Regions from separate parts of the Homo sapiens genome. Here region 2 is linked to region 1. The links come from fine-mapping of genetic effects on gene expression. A gene starts in region 1. The other region holds a variant in brackets. All regions are shown on one strand. Distances are from middle to middle. Region 1 holds the start of TSPAN15 (tetraspanin 15). Region 2 overlaps HK1 (hexokinase 1).

The links. PIP is the estimated chance that this variant, and not a neighbour inherited with it, causes the effect. A credible set is the group of variants that fine-mapping cannot tell apart.
Region 2: its variant is the best candidate, but not a certain one, in a credible set for the expression of TSPAN15 in whole blood (TOPMed, PIP 0.52).

Annotation. Positions count from the first base shown.
Region 1 is chr10:69,446,799-69,454,798 of GRCh38, reverse strand. It overlaps TSPAN15 (tetraspanin 15), which reads right to left and starts at 3,334. Exons shown (of 8, transcript NM_012339.5): 1 at 3,109-3,334. The coding sequence starts at 3,204. RefSeq lists enhancers at 2,314-2,814, 3,606-3,745, 3,695-4,312, 4,313-4,931, 6,249-6,750 and a silencer at 3,176-3,485.
Region 2 is chr10:69,396,948-69,408,239 of GRCh38, reverse strand. HK1 (hexokinase 1) reads right to left here. Exons shown (of 18, transcript NM_000188.3): 17 at 9,412-9,645; 18 at 6,358-7,249. The coding sequence ends at 7,105. TACR2 (tachykinin receptor 2) reads left to right here. Exons shown (of 5, transcript NM_001057.3): 4 at 960-1,156; 5 at 3,156-4,337. The coding sequence ends at 3,414. Among named protein-coding and RNA genes, the nearest start is that of TACR2, 14 kb to the left of the region's middle. The variant G/C (reference allele first, on the strand shown) is at 4,227.

The sequences.
Region 1 (8,000 bases):
CTCATGCAGGCTGGAGTGCAGTGGCACAATCTCAACTCACTTCAACCTCCGTCTCCTGAGCTCAGGTGATCCTCCTACCTCAGCCTCCCAAGTAGCTGTGACTACAGGTGCATGCCACCACGCCCAGCTAATTTTTGTATTTTTAGTAGAGACAGAGTTTCATCATGTTGCCCAGGCTGGTCTCGAACTCCCAGGTTCAAGCAATCTGCCCATCTTGGCCTTCCAAAGTGCTAGGATTACAGGCATGAGCCACAATGCCTGGTCAATAGTAATTTTTTTTTTTAAACCGAGTCTTACACTGTCACCCAACTACAGTGCCGTGGCACGATGTCAGCTCACTGCAACCTCCACCTCCTGGGTTCAAACAATTCTCATGCTTCAGCCTCCCGAGTAGCTGGGATTACAGGCACACACCACCACGCCTGGCTAATTTTTGTATTTTTAGTAGAGATGAGGTTTCACCATGTTAGCCAGGCTGGTCTCAAACTCCAGACCTCGGGTGATCCTCCCGCCTCAGTCTCCCAAAATGCTGGGATTACAAGCATGAGCCACCGGGCCCGGCCCCAGTAGTAATTTTTAAAGTAAGCAAAAAGTCTTACAGAAGGTACAAGGCTGTCATAAAACTTATGGCCCTCCAGACCTAAAAACTGAGATGCAAATTGCTAGCAGTTTGGACTTACAAAGCAAGTAACCCTTCCCTCAACCCCAGAGATGGCACCAGAGATGGCACCAGAGATAATAGGCTTTCCTGTAAATGGTTTCCAAATAACAGTAAACCTGGTCCAGGACAGATTACTTACTCACACTGGGCCCTGCCCTGCAGTCAAACTCTGGCACCTGGAGCTGCTCTGGCAGAGTTGGCAGGTGGCTGAGTTCTTGGCATGGGTGTAGAGACTTTTAAACAGAAATACTTCCAGGGATGGGAGTTAAGGATTTGGTAAGGCAACCTCAGTTGGCAGAGGAGGGATTCCAAGTTCTGAGAACCACCCTGCCCAAGAGAAGCAAGGCAAGGGCCATTGGGTGGGCTTCTCTGGGGGCTGCAAAGGACAGTGACAGAACAAAGCCTTAAAAATTAGAGTTCAGTTTTATTTAACTGCATGAGGTATGTTTGTACTGCACTGATTTTGCTCATATGTCACTCTTTCCCCATATCACTAATCCTAAAACAATTCAGTGAGGTACAGGGCAGAGATTCACTTATTCATTTTATAGATGAGAAAATGGAAACGTGAGGAGGTAGAGAGACTGGTTTGTGATTATATATCTGGGGAAGGGGTGAAGCCCAAAATACAACTCCATCTTCCTACCTCCCCACCCATCAACCTTAGGCTCTTTCAACTCTGATTTACAGAGAGAAGGGCTCACAGAACACACAAGGGGCAGGCACAGAAATCCTGGGGACTTAGGGGACCTATGAGACCATCTAGGGCAGCAGTTTTCAATACTGACTGCACACTAGAATTACCTTAATTCTAGTAAGTAATTTACTACAATTAAGCTTATGTAAATTTAAATAAATACCTATGCCAGGGCACAAGAATCTGATGCAACCGCTGATTTATAGCTCAAATCACCCCCACTCCCATCCCACATATGACCTTCTGTCTCCCTAGAGCTTCCACCAACAGGTCCTTGCTCCATCCTCCGCCCCCCAAACATACTGTTCATCTCTCCTCCACATTACCTAGAGTCAGAGAATTGGATTGGAAACTGGCCTCAGACTAGTCTTCTAGATGGAAAAGTCAATGAACAGTTCTGAGGCCCAAAACAGGAAAGTGACTTGCCTAAGATATCCATAAGTCAGTAACAGAGCTGAATCTGGATCTCCGATTACCAGGCAAGGCCCCACCCACAAAGGGGTCACAGGGAAAGCCAGTCCTGATGGCAAATCCAGCAGCTCCTGCTAGCAGAAGAGACCCAGCAAGGGGCTAAGGAGGACACCAGGGGAGAGTGTGTGTATTTGGTGGGAATGGGGTGTCAGTGACCACCCTGGGTCCCTGGGCAAGTCTGCTCTTGTGGCATACTGCAGGCAGAGAGCGATTCTGGAGTGACAGGGGCGGAGCTGGCCTATAGGAAGATATCCTCATCTCTAGAATAGGGCCCAGCCTAATATGAAACGCCCTTACAGAAACCCAATCTCTTGGGGCAGCTTACACCACAGGTGTCCAAATTCCCTGCCCACGATAGTAATAATGTCTCACACTTCTTGAGCTCTTCACTAGGCACCATACCCGGCCTATTTCACGTAATCTCCGCGAGCATCCTACAAGTTGAATATAATTACTGTGTCCATTTACAGATGAGGAAACCATGGCCGAGAGGAATGAAGTAACTTCCCCAAGATCACTCAGCAAGTGCTCATTTCAGAAACGCACAAACTGAAATTGGAACGATACAGAGATTAGCAATGTTTTAAATAAAAAATAAAATATAAAATAAAAGACCACTCGGAGCGACGGAATTCAAAGCTTGGTTCATGTCTAAACACTACCATCCTGCCCCCTAACAAGGCAGAGGAGGAGGTAAAGCCCAGCGACAGCGGAAACTGAGCACCTAGGTGTGCAGGAGACGTCGTCTGGTGGACTTCTCCTCGCCACGCAGGAGGCACGTGCATCCACCAAAGAGGAAACCAAGACGGAGCGGGGAAGCGTCTCGCTCAGGGGCATCAGCAAGTAACTAGCAGGGACCAGACCCGGAATCCAGGTCTCCCAACCCCGACTGCAAATCCTAACTACTTAAGCTCCACAGGCCGATGCAGAGGCAGTCAGTCCTACCGGGTAGGCGTGGTGGGCGCGGCCAGCGCGTTCACCTCAGCCTAGCCAGCCGGCCAGCGGACGCACAGCGGGCAAACCGCCCAGCCGGTGCACACAGGTGAGCCAGGTGGCACTCGGTCGGTCGACAACCGGCTCTCACACTCCCGAAAGGGCGGCTGAAAATTCAGGCTGAGCTCTGGCCGCCCGAATGTGAGGTAGAAAGACAAGGAGTCCGCGCGCGCTCACCCGCGCACTCCCTGGAGCGGCTAAGTGTGGACCCAACCCCGGGCCAGTGAGGGGGCGGCCGGATTGTGGGTCCCCACCCCCATCCCCGGGCCCTACTGGGGTCACTCACCCAGAACACGGTGGAATAGATGATAAGTGAAAACTTGAGCCAGAGGTAGGAGAAGCGCGCGCAGTAGCGCACCTGCTCCGAGTCCCCGCGCGGCATCCTGGGCGCTCCCCGCGCGGGTTACGGGGGCTCCGGGGCTCTCCGGCTCGGTCCCTCAGCCAGCGCTCGTGGCCCCACCTGCGGCTGCCGGGCTACCAGCCCCGCCACCGGCGTTCTCTCCGGGACTGACACTGGAGCGCGGCAATCACAGCCCCAGCCGGGAAGCCTGCCAGCCCTGGCGGCCAATGGGAGGCCGCGGCTGCCTAGCGTCTGGGAGGGGGCGGGCCAGGGGCGGGGCTGCTGCCCTGGGCCCTAGAGGGGACCAAGAAGGGATGGGAGGGGGAGACGGTCTTGCAAATGAGCTCGCGTGCAACTCTGGAAACGCCTGTGCTAATGCAGGGGGCGTGGGAGAGGTGAACCAGAGGTGCTCTAAGGAGAGAGCGAGCGTGCCTAATCGGGGTACATAGAAATGCAAGCTTTCCTCTTGTCAAGAGGGAAAACTTTGGGAAAAGGGCAAGAATTAATCGCCCAGGTGTTGAAAGTGCAAATGAGTGTGCTAAACGTGAATGGAATAAGGAAGTGGAGTTGCTCGGCTCAGGAAGGCTCAGGGAGGCAGACCAGGGTGGGGCTAATAGGCCCCCATGGAGCTGGAGTCTGAAGTTTGCTCGTGAAACAGATCTGCTGAAGGCCTTCACCAAACGACCTCGGAAGTCCCCTTCTTTTGCCAGGTGATAACCCAGCCTTGGGAAGGGTTCCTCCCGGGAAACCCCATCTTCAAACTAGGTTGAAGGCCTGGCGCGGTGACTCACGCCTGTAATCCCAGCACTTTGGGAGGCTGAGGAGGGCGAATGGCTTGAGCCCCAGGAGTTCAAGACCAGCCTGGGCAACATGGCAAAACGCCGACTCTATAATTAAAAAAAATAAAAAGCCAGGCACGGTGGCGCGCCTGTTGTCCCAGCTACTTGGGAGACAGGCGGGAGAATCGCTTGAGTCAGGGAAGTCAAGGCTGCAGTGAGCCGTGATTGTGCCAGTGCACTCCAGCCTGGGAGACAGAGTGAGACCCTCTCTCCAAAACAAAAACAAAAACAAGGCCGGGCACGGTGGCTCACGCCTGTAATACCAACACTTTGGGAGGCCAAGGCGTGCGGATCACTTGAGGTCAGGAGTTCGAGACTAGCCTGGACAACGTGGTGAAACCCTGTCTCTACTAAGAAATACAAAAAAAATTAGCCGGGCAGGGTGGTGCATGCCTGTAGTCCCAGCTACTGGGGAGGCTGAAGCAGGAGAATCGCTTGAACCCGGGAGGCGGAAGTTACAGTGAACCGAGATCCCGCCACTGCACTCCAGCCTGGGTGACAAAGGGAGACTCCATCTCAAAAAAACAAAAAACAAACAAACAGAAACTATAGGTGAGGGAGGCAGCTCCCTCTCTTGCACATAGCCAGCCACTAACCCAGCCTCCTCCCACCTGGCCTTTTCTCAGCCTGGGACCAGAGGTGGCTGTGAGCCTGTCTCTCATGCTAGATGGTCCCAGCTTTACTCACTGTTGTTTCCTGTCTCCCAAGCCTAGCTCAGCCTGGGACTTGGGAGCCAGACAATCCCTGCTGTGGCCTTCAGTAATTAAATCCATGGCAGAGGTCATAAGCTCTAGCAGTGCTGGGTGGGGTCCCTGGTGGTGATTTCAGGAACGACACTCTTATACAAGTCCCCAGTCCTGGGTTCCCAGGGCTCCTGCATACACAAACTCAACAGAGAAGGACAGACTCAGAGACTTAGTCCAGGCTGGCTTTAGCCCCCAGAGCTCTGCCCTAGGAGGAAGAAAGCAAGATTGGGGGGTGGGGAGGGAGGCAGTGCCATGCCTGGAAGGGTAAAAGGAAACCAATTTCCTGGTACAAAACAAACAAACCTTGGGAGGATGTTTGTGTGGGGTAGAGAAATAGAACCAGAGCCAGGCACAGTGGCTCATGCCTGTAATCCCTGCACTTTGGGAGGCCAAGGTGAGAGGTTTGCTTGAGTCCAGGAGTTTCAGACCAGTCTGGGCAACGTAGCAAGACCTCATCTCCACTGAAAATCAAAAAAATTAGCCAAGCATGGTGTCTCGTGCCTGTAGTCCCAGCTACTTGGGAGGGTGAGGTGGGGGTATCACTTCTCGAGCCCAAAAGATCAAGGCTGCAGTGAGCTATGATTGTGCTACGGCACTCCAGCCTGGACAACAAAGCAAGACCCTGTCTCAAAAAAAAAACAACAGGGAAAAGAAAAGGTGGAAAGAGAACCAGAGAGTAATGCAAGCTGCCCTCAAATGATTATCTGAGGGCCAAGAAGGCATCTTACCATAGTGTTAAAAGTTGTCCATTCTGGCCGGGCGCGGTGGCTCACACCTGTAATCCCAACACTTTGGGAGGCCAAGGCAGGGGGATCACTCGAGGTCAGGAGCTCAAGATCAGCCTGGCCAACATGGTGAAACCCTGGCTCTACTAAAAATACAAAAATTAGCCGGGCATGGTGATGGGTGCCTGTAATCCCAGCTACTCGGGAGGCTGAGGCAGGAGAATCACTTGAACCTGGATAGCAGAGGTTGCAATGAGTCAAGATCGTGCCACTGCACTCCAGCCTGGATGACAGAGCGAGACTCGGTCCCCAAAAAAAAAAAAAGTTGTCCTTTCTGTCCTTTGAGGAGGAAGACTAACTTTTTATTCCTCTTTGAGGGCTAGAGCCTCCACCCAGCCCTGCAGAGCTAAGTCCACACCCATTATTTGAGGTGCTAGTCTCTTCCCCACCCATAGAAGCTTGGAACCCTCTTCATACCCTGGAAGGCTAGTTTAGCCTCCTAGTTCCCTTTCATTCTCCATATTTAAACTACAGTCGAAACTGCCACACACCTCCATCAGGTTTCCTTCCCAGTTGCCCCTGGACTTCTATTCTTCCCTTCTGGCCTCTCCAGCCAGCTGCATTTTCTCTCATCTTTCAAATATTCCCTGGTGACACACAAGCTTCTTAGCAAGCCCTCTCAGCTCTCCCTAAGCCCTCGAGGTGAGCCATCCCTACAAAGAGCCTTGGAGCTCTTTGGGGCTGGCACAGCCTTTCCCTGGCTGCTGGGCTTCTTCACTGTGCCTCCCCACCTGCAATCCTGACCCTGACCCCAAGCACTAGGGCTCCTCCTGAACCACATTTGCAAACACTGAGACCTCAGAAGAAATGGCCATCTGTTTCCCACTTTTCCTCCTTTAGCCAGGAACTCTGGCCTAGGGGCCAGCAGGCCTGGTGCAAATCCTGGTTTTGCCATTACTTTTTTGTAGGACTGTTAGAATGTGTGGCATAGTGTGACACACAGGTGTGAATGCAACCCTAGCTGCAGACTAAAAGCACCTGGTAAGCTTTAAATGTATCCTGATATTCAAGCCCCACTGCAGTCAAGTCAAAATCCCCACCAACAGGAACGTGGTAATCAGTATTATTTTTAAACTCCCCAGGTAATTTCTCATTTTTATGTTTATTTTTATTTTTTTGAGAGGCAGTCTTGCTCTGTCACCCAGGCTGGAGTGCAGTGGCGTGATCTTGACTCACTGCAACCTCCGCTATACAGGTTCAAGTGATTCTCCTGCCTCAGCCTACCAAGTAGCTGACATTACAGGCCCCCGCCACCACACCCAGCTAATTTTTGTATTTTAGTAGAGACAAGTTTCACCATGTTGGTCAGGCTGGTCTTGAACTCCTGACCTCAAATCATCAGCCCACCTCCGCCTCCCTAAGTGCTAGGATTACAGACATGAGCCATTGTGTCTGGACTCCCCCAGGTAATTTCTAAAGTGCAACCAGAATTAAGCATCACTGGTACAGAGGTAGTCATGAGGGTAAGGTTGTCAGCCAACATCTTACCAGAAAGCCACATTCCAGAAGTCACTTACTCAGCTATCCACTGATATACTGGTAAATATTTAAAAACTAGCTGGTGTGGGGGATTCCAATTTCCATAAAGTAAATACTTCCACCATGTCTGATTTTAAGTTACCAACTTCACTTCAATGAACTTGGGAGTTCAGAGGCATGCAGAGTCTGGAACAATCACTCAGTATCCCATGCAAATATCCATATCTCAATCCACCCCCAAGGCTTTTCTAATTAGCATAATGAATGGATTGGTAAAATTCTGGGCTTATTAATTAGCATAACAGGTATTAGAAATGAGTCTCCTTTGGAGAAATTAACAGTATTAAAGATATTTAGATTGGCTAAAATAGTTTTGGCACCACCCATTCCTTGTTCAAACAGTGTCAAAGAATCTTGGGAAGCTGCTAATTCTCACTTATGGATAATACACTGAGCTAAAGGCTTGAGAGTGCTTCTGTCTCAAAGTATTCCAATGCAGCCATCAGTCAAACTGAGTCCTGCCTTTAGAATATTGTATTTTCCTCCAGCAGACCCTTCTTGCAAGGTGGAAGAGCTCCTAAAAGGACAGAAAGCTGGGCCTTTTTGAGTTTCACAGAAAGGTTGTATGAACCAATTTTGTGGCTACTAGCTAATAAATGTTTGTTTTATAGACATTCGTATGGGCAGCAGAATCCGTCCTGAGATCTGTTTTCTTGATAACTTGACAGTGAGATTTAGGGGGAAATGACTAACCCTTGCCTTTAATGGCTATTACAGTTTGTGAAAAAGAAGCTAACAATTATGCATGACCAATTTGACTTGGGTATGTCTGTATTCATGCCACTGGGCAAAGGTCTCTGTCTGTGCCTCTGTTTCCCCACCTGTGAAACAATGAGGTTGGCCTGTTTCTCTTCCAGCTCTAACAATCTTAGCTATAATTCTCACAGTCAATAGATGAGTCAGCAAATGCACAACGAGCTTCTCCTGTG
Region 2 (11,292 bases), 48 kb after region 1:
ACCAGATAGTTGTCCAGCTTCATCAAATCTGTCTCCAGTTTCTTCCGGAAGTGGCAGTGTCCCCCTACTCCCTGCCATCCAGGGTCCCCCGAAGGTCCTGATGTAGCCCTCTGTGCCCAAGACCCCCTTCACCCTCCTTCAGTCCAAGCTTGTCCTTGCCCCCTTCCTACCAGGCAACAGGGGAGGTAATGGGTTAACCACATCATGTAGCCAGGTCAAAGCCATGCTTCTCACCCAAAAGTAGGCATCTTTCACAGGGTGGTTCGGGGAGATAGCTGCACATGGGCGCCATCTGGTGCCCCTCATGGAGCACTGGCCTCCATCTGCTCCACACTAGGGGTCTCAACCCAGATCCTACGTGAGGATCAGGGTGCCCAGGAGCCCCCAGACCTTTTGTAATTGGCATGCTGGGCTGCCAAACGGAGCAGGAGTGTGCCTGCAGGGGCCAGGCTCTGAGGAGGGGGAGGTCCAGGAGCTGACCCGTGGGCAGAGGCAGGGGTCCCTGGTTGGAACCTTACAGCCCACAGAGAGAAGGGCTGTGCCGATACGGATCCCAGAGAGGGGGCGTCCTGGGAACGCATAGCTGACACAGGGGCTCCCCCAGGGATGGGGTTAGGAGAGAGAGCTCAGCCACTCTCCAGGGAGGGGGAGCTGCAGTGAATGAAGGGGTCCCAGACACCTTTTGTAGGAAGTGGCCATTGAGCTGGGCTTCAAGGAGTGAGGACTTCAAAGGAAGGATGGCAGTATGGGCAGAGGGACCTGCCTGAGCACAGGCCTCTGAGGTTGGGGGCTCAGGAAGGTCTGGGCAAAACATGCTCAGAGGCCTGAGTAATAGAGCTAACGGGGTCTGTGTGTGGAGCAGTTCCCAGGTGGGTGCAAGGGGTCCTCTGTGTCTGCCCTCGGAGGGCTGGGGCTGGGGCTTGGGCACTAAGAAGTAACTTGAGCCTCTCCTGGACCAGTTTGTGAAGACCATGGTGCTGGTGGTGCTGACGTTTGCCATCTGCTGGCTGCCCTACCACCTCTACTTCATCCTGGGCAGCTTCCAGGAGGACATCTACTGCCACAAGTTCATCCAGCAAGTCTACCTGGCACTCTTCTGGTTGGCCATGAGCTCTACCATGTACAATCCCATCATCTACTGCTGTCTCAACCACAGGTGAGCCCCCACTCCAGCCCCACCCTCTGCCCTCAGGGCCCCACTGCCCAGCCCCAGGTGGGCTCCCCTGCACAGCTCAAGCATCCATCCTCATTCCTGCCGGAACCTGTGGCCCTGTGCCCCCAGCCTACATGAGAAAGCCGTCCTCACACTCAGCCCCCAGCACAATAATCCCTCTGGCCTGGGCCTAGCTTGAGCCCCCTTCCTCCCCAAATCCTCACCGTCTCCCAGGCTGTAGCTCTCACTGTCTGTCTGTTCCTGCTGGCTCTTCTGGGTTCTGTGTCTGGGGCAAGAGAAGAGAGAAGGGAGGGCCAGAGAGATGAAGGGGAGGGGAGAGTCACAGAGAGGGGGTGGGACAGACAGACGAAGGAAAGAAAAGCTAAGTAGCGGGAGGGAGGGACTGACTTCTGTTCTAGTATTTTCACAAGCTTCCTACTGAGGGCTTTCCTGGAGCCAAGTGAATGGCACCCATCCGGCAGTGGAAGCAGTGGATGGGGGCTGGGGCCAGCACAGGGGTGGGGCAGGCTGCTCCCTGGAAAGCTCACAGTGCATGCCCTGTCCTCCAGGGACTTTCAGGGCAGCTGGGAAGTGACCCTGTCAGAGACAGCCAGGAAGGAGGGGGCCAGAATCTCACTCTCCTGGCATCATCCAGTTTCCCTACGCCTCGTGATTCTGAGGAAATGAGTCCCAGAGAGGGGCCTGCACTTGCTCTGGGGCACCTGGAGAGGTGGGGGGTGGTGAGTCAGGGAGGAACCCAGCCCCAGGAGTTCTGCAGAGCAGGCCTTTCAGTGGCAGGAAACCCTGAAGGTGGGGCAAATAAGGGGCGGCAAGAGGTGGACACAGTCTCACCTCAGTGAGACAATGATGTGGGCGAAGTTGGCCTTGGACCTCTTTGTTCATGTTTTTTGTCACCTCCCTGGCCAGGTAGCCAGGCTACTCATAATGCCATTGGGATCTTTGTGGCTCAGACATTTCACCCGCCTGGGGCAGGCCAAAAGGAAATAAGGAGCTATGATTTTTTGCAGGAGGCCAGAACTCTCTATCTCCTGAGAGGGAAGTAGATAATAGGAGAGAAGCAGGTGTCACCCCCACTCTACAGATGGGGAAACTGAGCTTCAGAAAGTAAGATGCTCCCAAATTCATACAACAAACAGTAAAGCCAGGACTCCATGGGTCTCCAAGGCCTGTCATCTTATCCCCACACCACGCATTTCTCTTTTAAAGACTTGTGGGATTGAAAACCTGGAGACAGGGACTCTGACATCTGGGAGGGGCCACCAGCCCACTGTGTCTGTGGGTTGATCACTCTCCTGCTACCCAAGGGAGATACAGTCCCTGGGAGTCTAAACAACACCCCAGGCTCTACAAGATCCTGACATCACTTCTGGATCATTCCCTTCTCTGAGCAGCCAGCGTTCCCTTTCTGCCGTCTGATTTCTTCCACTCACCGTGTGTGCTTCCTCTGAACTCCCGTTCAGTGCTGCCATGGGGAGAGCTGTTTGTTTTCAAGCAAATGCATCAGAACTTGGTGGCTCCGAGTGTGGGTTTTTCAATGTAGTCCCCTTGGGAAAAGCATCCTTGTTCTCCCAAGTTGCCAAAGCCTCCATTGTGTTTTAGCAGGTTCTTCTTTGACTCATCCCTTAGAAGCCAGTTAACAAGTCAGACAAGAACATCTGCTGGTTTTTTTGTTTGTTTGTTGGTTGGTTGGTTTTTTTAGTAATTATGCTGGGGTCATTTTTTGTTCGTAATAACAGATGACCTAAATCAGCTTAGTCACCCACTTCATTCACTAGACCCAGCTCCAGAACACTCTGGCAGTTTCCAAAAATCAAACTCACCCACGAAGGCATCTCTCAAGAGCCCCTGAGCCATGGGAGGCTCTTGGAGAGAGACAGTGACTTTCCTCTGGAAGGGAGTCAGTTTCCTGGGGGTGGGGGCAGTCACATCACAGCTCCTGAGCCCCTAACTCCCTGGCTCAAGGTGCCCCTCGCTCCCCCAGGTTTCGCTCTGGATTCCGGCTTGCCTTCCGCTGCTGCCCATGGGTCACACCCACCAAGGAAGATAAGCTCGAGCTGACTCCCACGACCTCCCTCTCCACGAGAGTCAACAGGTGTCACACTAAGGAGACTTTGTTCATGGCTGGGGACACAGCCCCCTCCGAGGCTACCAGTGGGGAGGCGGGGCGTCCCCAGGATGGATCAGGGCTATGGTTTGGGTATGGTTTGCTTGCCCCCACCAAAACTCATGTTGAAATTTGATCCCAATGTGGCAGTGTTGGGAGGTAGGGGTTAGTGGGAGGTGTTTGGGTATTGGGGATGGATCCCTTATGAATAGATTAATGCCTTCCAGTTGAAGTGAATCATCACTCTTGTGGGAATGGACTAGTTCCCAAAATAACAAGTTGTTAGAAAGAGTGTGGTGTCCTCAGTTTCCCTGTCTTGCTTCCTCTCTCACCATGTGATCTCTTTGCACACAACACTTCCCTTCCACTTTCCACCATGACAAGAAGCAGCCTGAGGCCTTCACCAGATGCAGCTGCCCAATCTTGGATATTCCAGCCACCAGAATCATGAGCCAAATAAACCTCTTTTCTTTATAAATTACCTAGTCTCAGGTATTCCATGAAAGCAACACAAATGGACTGAGATAGGTGCCTATTGAACCCTGAAGCCTTGTGCCTGGCTGCAGAATGAGGTGTAGCACCCTTTGAGAAGTAGCCAATCGAGAAGACCACATCTGAAAGTTCAGCTCATGCCCCATCCTTCAGTATACCAATACAAAGACAACATGGGGCCAGAACTCCAGAAAGGATGCTGACTTTAAGAGGACTCAGCCACCCATCTCAGAGAGCACTTCAGAGGATCCAGTAAGGGTCAGAAAAGACAGTGTAAGCTGATATTTATCTAATTTAAGAGATGCAAGCTCAAATGCCTTCCTGGGGCATACAAGAATATGTATAAAAGAAAAACTGCAAATGTGATGATAAAAGGCAACTGACTTCCACCCTCAGTTTGAGCTAATAGGGAATGGTGGGGGCCATGGCAACCTGGAGAGGACAGGCATTCAAAGG[G/C]GACAAGAACTACTCAGCTCTGGACAAACGTTGCCACATGATAATGGGAGCCCACTGTTGCTAGATCTTCTAAATCTTTCAAGAGAAGCTATAAATCCACATTTGTATGTGAGTCTTCCAGATTTGTTGAATTTGACCCAAATTTTCATAAACTTTGCATAAGTTAAACAAAACGTATCTGTGGGCAATGCAACCATGACCCTGATTCGCCATCAGGCTGTGGATACAAAGGAGGAAACTTCTTATTTCACAAAGCCCAGTGACTGAGTCAGCTGAGGGCTTCTCTGTCTCAGTATTTAAGAAGTCAGATACAGCCCACGTAGATGGTGATTAAGAGCCAAAAAAATCAGCTGTGTTTCCTCAGGCAAGTCACTTTGACCTCTGCCCAGTATCAAAACTACTTCACAGGGATGCTGTGAGGAACAATGGGAGTAATGCCTATAAACTAGCAGGCCAGACCAGATTAAGTGCCCAATACATGGTAGCCAGGACTTTCTTTTTTTTTTTTTTTTTTTTTATGAGACAGGGTCTCACCTCACTCTGAGACCCAGGCAGGAGTGCAGTGGCACCATCATGATTCAGTGCAGCCTCAACCTCCTGGGCTCAGGGGATCCTCCTGCCTCAGTCTCCCCTGTAGCTGGGACCACAGATACATACCACCACACCCAGCTAGTTTTTAAGTTTTTTGTAGATATGGGGTCTTGCTATGTTGCCCAGGCTGGTCTTGAACTCCTGGGCTCAACCATTCCTCCTGCCTGTCTCCTGAAGTGGTGGGATTACAGATGTGAGCCACCACACCTGGCTGTTAGCCATGACTTTTAACTATTTCACACAAAAGCCACCTACAAAGCAGCAGCACAGCTCCCACTCCCACTTCTGCAGCAAGAAGCTAGAGGGCAGAAAGCAGCAACTGTCCCAACTCCCAGAAAGCTCCCGGTCTGGCCCAGCCCATCCCAGGGGCACACCTCCTGCTTGCCAACTCAGCCTCCACGCCCTGGTTCCCCTGCAGAAGAGCCATGTAACATTGTCAATGCACACTGGAAGGTGTAATGTTATCTGTGTTCTCCAAAAAATCACTGCTCCGTAGACACCAGCACCATGCCCCTAATAAAGGGACTCTGATCTCACCAAACCAGGTGGTCTGGCAATCGGTCTCGCAGGAAGCCACTTAGAGCCGCAGCTGTGGCTTGGGACATCACAAGGTGCTTGGGTGCAGAGTGACATGGAACCCACCAAGGCTGGGGGAGAATCCAAAATGGTAGCCTGGGGATAGACCAGGAATCTCTTGAGGTGGGGGTGGGAAGGGAGAGTAAAAGGTCAGACAAGGGTTAATTTCCTAGGGATGAGGTCAATCTAAGATCCAGAAGGGGTGGGCCGGGAGCGATGGCTCACGCCTATAATCCCAGCACTATGGGAGGCTGAGGGGGGCAGATTGCTTGAGCTCAGGAGTTGGAGACCAGCCCTGGCAACACAGTGAGACCCTGTCTACAGAAAATAAAAATAAAAAATAAAGAAAAAAGATCCGGGAGCGGGAGCGTGCAGCCAGCCTGGGCTGCTTCAAGATTTCATCTGTGTTTGGGTAGAGAGGGAGGGGAGGGGTGGGGCAGAGCACATTTCATCCTTTGTCTTGGGGTTGGCAGAGAGGAAGATGAAGGGCAGGATCCGGGTGGGGATGGCAGAGAGGGGACCAGTGTTGCAGTCCTCTCACTGAACCCAAGCAGCCTGGAAGCCAAGTGGCCTTGTTCTATAATCCCAGCACTTTAGGAGGCCAAGGCAGGCAGATCACTTGAGGTCAGGAGTTGGAGACCAGCCTGGCCAACATGGTGAAACCCCTTCTCTACTAAAAATACAAAAATTAGCTGGGTGTGGGGATGCACGCCTGTAGTCTCAACTACTCAGGAGGCTGAGGCAGGAGAATCACTTGAACTCGGGAGGCAGAGGTTGCACTGAGCTGAGATTGTGCCACTGCACTCCAGCCTGGGTGACAGGGCAAGACTCCATCTCAAAAAAAAAAACTCCTCCGCCCAGAAGGCCACAAAACTCCCCAGTGTTTGGTCTTTGCCACATCCCAAGAAACTGCACCCCCCTCTGCCTGTCCCCCCGTCCCCAGCCATTAAGCATCACTCGGGTCTTTGAATTGGTACAAAGTTTACTAGGTCATACGACACGGCTCACAAAGCGGTGGGAAATTCCAGTGATGGCATTGTTTGTTGGTTGGTTCCTTTTATCCAAATGGAGACAAGACACATTTCCGCAGGACTGTCCACCTCCCCCCACGAGACAAACAGAATGCAAGACTGTCACACGCGGCTAGGACTGGTTCCACGGACACACGATTTTGTGGCATTGACACACCACGATGCGATGCCAGGCCACAGTGGGTGCCAGGAGGGGAGGAAGCAGCTAATGCTATGCCCACACTCGCCTTCAGGCAGTGCCCCCGGGAGGGAGGCCCGGCAGTGTCTGCTGGTGATAATACATTTCACACAGGGAGGGGGAACCCCAAGGATGGGCTTTGGAGGCCCAGAAGGCCTGTCAGGTGGTGTGATTTTCCATCTCCAGCCAATAAATAACTCTGTTGGATGAATGCATACATTAGAAATGGATGCCACTACACTTCACACGTGGGGGACCAGGTCAAAATCAAACCATGCAAAGTGGCAGGGCAAGTGAGGAGGGATCCGGGTGAGAGATATTATCAACAGCACACGCTCTATTCTGTACCCTACAATATATACCATTAGTTGGATTTTGCTTTCCTCCCCGCGCCGGCAGGCCCTGGCGCCAGCGTCTCCCAGCGCAACTCGCTGGGAGGGTAGGGGGTCGCCGCTTGAAGAGAGAAGTGCTGGAGAGGCAGTAGGCTGGGGATCCCGGACTCTTAGCTGCTTGCCTCTGTGCGTAACCGCACGCCCACGGCCGTGATGAGGGCGGCCCCCTTGCCGCTGCCATCCTCAGACAGGAGGAAGGACACGTTACATTTTGGTGACAGTTCCTTCACCGTCTGGTGCATGATTCTGGAGAAGCTAAAAAGGACGAGAAAACAGAAGGTAGTTGGAGGAAGATGAGAGACGCTGGGCCTACCCGAAAACACCAAAGCACAGACAGCCCCCTGACTGGTGATGATTCGACTTAGGATTCTTCGACTTTGTGATGGGTTTATCAGGACATAAGCATCGGAAGTCAAAGAGACTCTGAACCCAACAACAAGGAGGGTGAACATGGTTGGGAGGCAGGCTGCTTAGAAGCAGCTGTGGCCAGTTGAGAATGGCTGGGAGGAAAGTGGGCCCACGGTCAATCCCATTGTCACAGTTTTCAGCAGGGAGGCCCAACTGCGAATCCAAACACAACTGCTCTGTATGGCTTATGAAGGCTAGGACATGAATAACACACACACCCACATCGGAGCTTGAGGCTCCAGGGGGACCTCAAAACCAAGGAGGATGTTAGGGGCTGACATGGATCATTAAGGCAGGTGCAAGCCAGCCAAGCACTGGATCGGTTCAGGAGGCTATGCAGGAATGAATATCACCCATCTCCAGCTGCAACCCTGAGACCCCCAGCGCCCCACCATCAACAGCCTGGCCCCCAAAGACAGGAATGCCTTCCAGTGAAGATAGTATCTGAACAAAGGCTGAATCTACATGCTTGTAAGTTGGGCTCAAAATGAAGGGCAGGGCCAGGCTGAAGATGCTTGTGGTGAGGGGCTCTCAAAAGTAGTCACTGTCCTTGGTTGGGGACCTATTAGGTGGGCGGAGTGCGGTGGCTCATGCCAGCACTTTGGGAGGCCAAGGTGGGAGGATCACTTGAGCCAAGGAGTTTGAGGACCTACTAGGTGCCCCATATTTTACAGCTCTAATTTCTAGTCCTGCCAGTGGCTGCCACCTCATGAGGAAGATGAGATTTTGCAGGGATTAAGCAATTGCACACAGATTCTAAGTGACGGTGCCAGGGTTAAATCCAAGAGTATGTGGCTCCAAAGCCTAGCTCTAAACCACTCCTGTGTGCTGCCTCAGCTGATGGCAAGGACAGCTATTAAGGGGGAGAGACAGAGGTGAGGATGGAGCAAGACAGATGGTTCCACCCCAAGCCACGGCCATGAGGTAAGCAGGTAATGTCTACACTGAGTCGGGTGAGGTTGCTTATAAGTAGGGTGACACTATGGCCTCATTTATCTGGGATGGTCCTAGTTTGCCTACAGTCCCAGAGTAATAATTATTAGCACTCTTGACTGGCAAGAGTACCCTAGTGTAGACAATAAATAAATAATATGGTCACCCTATTCATAAGGTGAGACATGCGGTGGATCACAATCACACAGCAAGTGCAATCACATGTCCTTCTCTGGCATGGGGGGTCAGATGCCTGACCAGAGGGAGGCCACTCCCTACCCCTCCCTGCCATGAAGCCCAGGGCCCAAACCGCTCCCGCCCTTCCAAGTCTTAGCAAACTGATTCAGCAGATGAACAAGAGAGTGGCTATCCTCCTTTCCTATTTTATTTTTTGAAATAGGGTCTCACTCTGTTGCCCAGGCTGGAGTACAGTGGCGTGATCTGGGCTCACTGCAACCTCCACCTCCCAGGCTCAAGCAATCCTCTTCCCTCAGCCTCCCGAGTAGCTGGGACTACAGGCATTCACCACCATCCCTGGCTAATTTTCAAAATTTTTTTGTACAGACAAGGTCTCACTATGTTGCCTAGGCTGGTCTCAAACTCCTGGACTGAAGCAGTCCTCCCACCTAGGCCTCCCAAAGTGCTGGATTACAGGTGTGAACCACTGCACCCAGCTCCTCCCCTTTCTTAATATCCTCTCCCCACTTACCCAACAGAGCCTCTGGCCTGGCTACAGCTCACCAGGCTTATGAGTGAGCCCACGCCCACCCTCACCTCCTCTCCCACTGCCTAGCCCCCACCTAAGGGGGACCAGGAGGAGTGGGGTGAGGGTCACATCATGCCACTGGTGTGAGCTGGCCAAGTGAAGCCACTTCTCTGTCTCCCTAAGGATCCCAGTCAAACCCTACAAACTGTTCATTACCTTGTCCTAGACAATCCCCAGCTCCTGAACGCACAGCCTTCAGCCTGGCTGGGCTCCCGCAGGGCATTTCCCCAGCGTAAACCACACCCTGATACCCCCTAACCCAAAGGGATCCCAGCAAGCTCTGCGCATCCCAACTGGAAGGCCCACTCACTGTGGATGAAGCTTGTAGAGTGTCCCGTCCACTCCCACAGTCACATTCAGACGGTCCAGTCCTCTGTTCTCGCGGATCTTATCCACAACCGCAGCCATGCCTGCGCCACACAGCTGTGCGGCCCTCCTGGACACCACCCCGCACACTGTCTTGACGAGGATACTGTCATCGCAGGTGCTATTCAGACCTAGCTGCTGGAGGATAGCCCGGACCTGGAGCAGTGCTAATCGGTCACTGTGGGGGACAAGAGCCAGAGGGCTGGATGAAGCAGGACCCACAAGAGCAGCCTGGAGACCACGTCCAAAGGACGCCCCCCGCCCCCAATCACTGTACTCATCCACAGACAGAGTCAAGGGCAAGTGTTACATGTTAAACTGTGGAGAATTTGGCAAATCTAGCAAAATAAAAATTGGAAAATCTAAACCATTCACTATCTCAACATCTAGGAAAATGCTATTAACATTTTAATATATTTCCTTCCAGTTTATTTTTCCTAGCTGGTATGCTTCTCATGATATGCAAAATGGGATTATCCTTGATATGTGATTTTCTTTCTCTTTCCTGTTTCATGCATTGAGCAATTTCCCACAGCCTTATCTGAGAACAGGATTGGAAACAGCTGCTGCAGTATTCCCTCTAGGGATGCACCATGATTTCTTTAGCCAGCTTGGAGAAATTCAAGTTAATTGCAATTTTCTGCTATTATAAAGAAACATTTTGATAAGGTTTGTTTATAAATCTTTGTGTGCAATTCTGATGTTTTTCCTTAGGATAAATTTCTGGGTCAACGAGCTTTTGCTACACATTGCCAGATGCCTTACAGAAAATTGTATCCATTTACTCTTCAGCAGAGTATTTGGCCACACTTATCCTCACTGGAAAAGAGCATTTTTTTACAACTTTTGACAGTTTTATAAGAAGGCATCACAAGACTGTAGTTCAATTTATATTATTCTCTATTAGTGAGGATGATCTCTTTTTTTTCCATTTGTTTTTTGGCCATATAAACTACTTCTTACGTCTCAAGACTTTTCTCCTGATATATTTGTCTTATTTATATTAAATTGAAAGAGACGATAACTGGGATGGTACAATGAAGACCAGCCAGGCTTCTTGGAGGACTTACCATGTAACATATATTTTACATACATTACCTTACTTACTCCTCAAACAACCAATGAATGTATGATTATTCCCATTTTAAAGATAAGGCAACTGAGGCTGGGAGAAATTGAGTATTGCAAAGCACACAGCCGGTGGAGAAGAGCAGGTGTAGACCAGACCTGCCAAAGCCCACCATGCCCTGCTAGGCGTCTTGTCATACACAGTACAAATGTCTTCCTCAGTTTACCGTTGCCTTTTAAGTTTGATTACTTTTTTTTTTTACTTACAGACACTATGTAGCTATATTTGGCCATTTTTCTTTATGATTTCTTTCTTTGCTATTATGCTTGAAAAGACTTTCCATACCACTTCATACCCATTAGGATGGCTATTCTCAACTCAGAAAATAACAAGTGTTGGCGAGGATGTGGAGAAACTAGAACTTTCACGGGCTGCTGGTGGGAATGTAAAATGTTACAGCCACTGTGGAAAACAACATGGTGGTTCCACAAACAACTGAACAGGGAATTACCATATGATCCCGCAAGTCCACTTGGGGTGCGTACACACACACACACAAACTGAAAGGAGATACTGGTCACCCGTGTTCACAGCAGCATTTGTCACAATATCCAAAAGGTGGAAGCAAGCCAAGTGTCCATGGATGGATGAATGAATAAACAAAATGCAGTGTGTGCATGCAATGGAATATCACTCAGCCTTAAAAATAAGGAAATTATGGCCGGGCGTGGTGGCTCATGCCTGTAATCCCAGCAC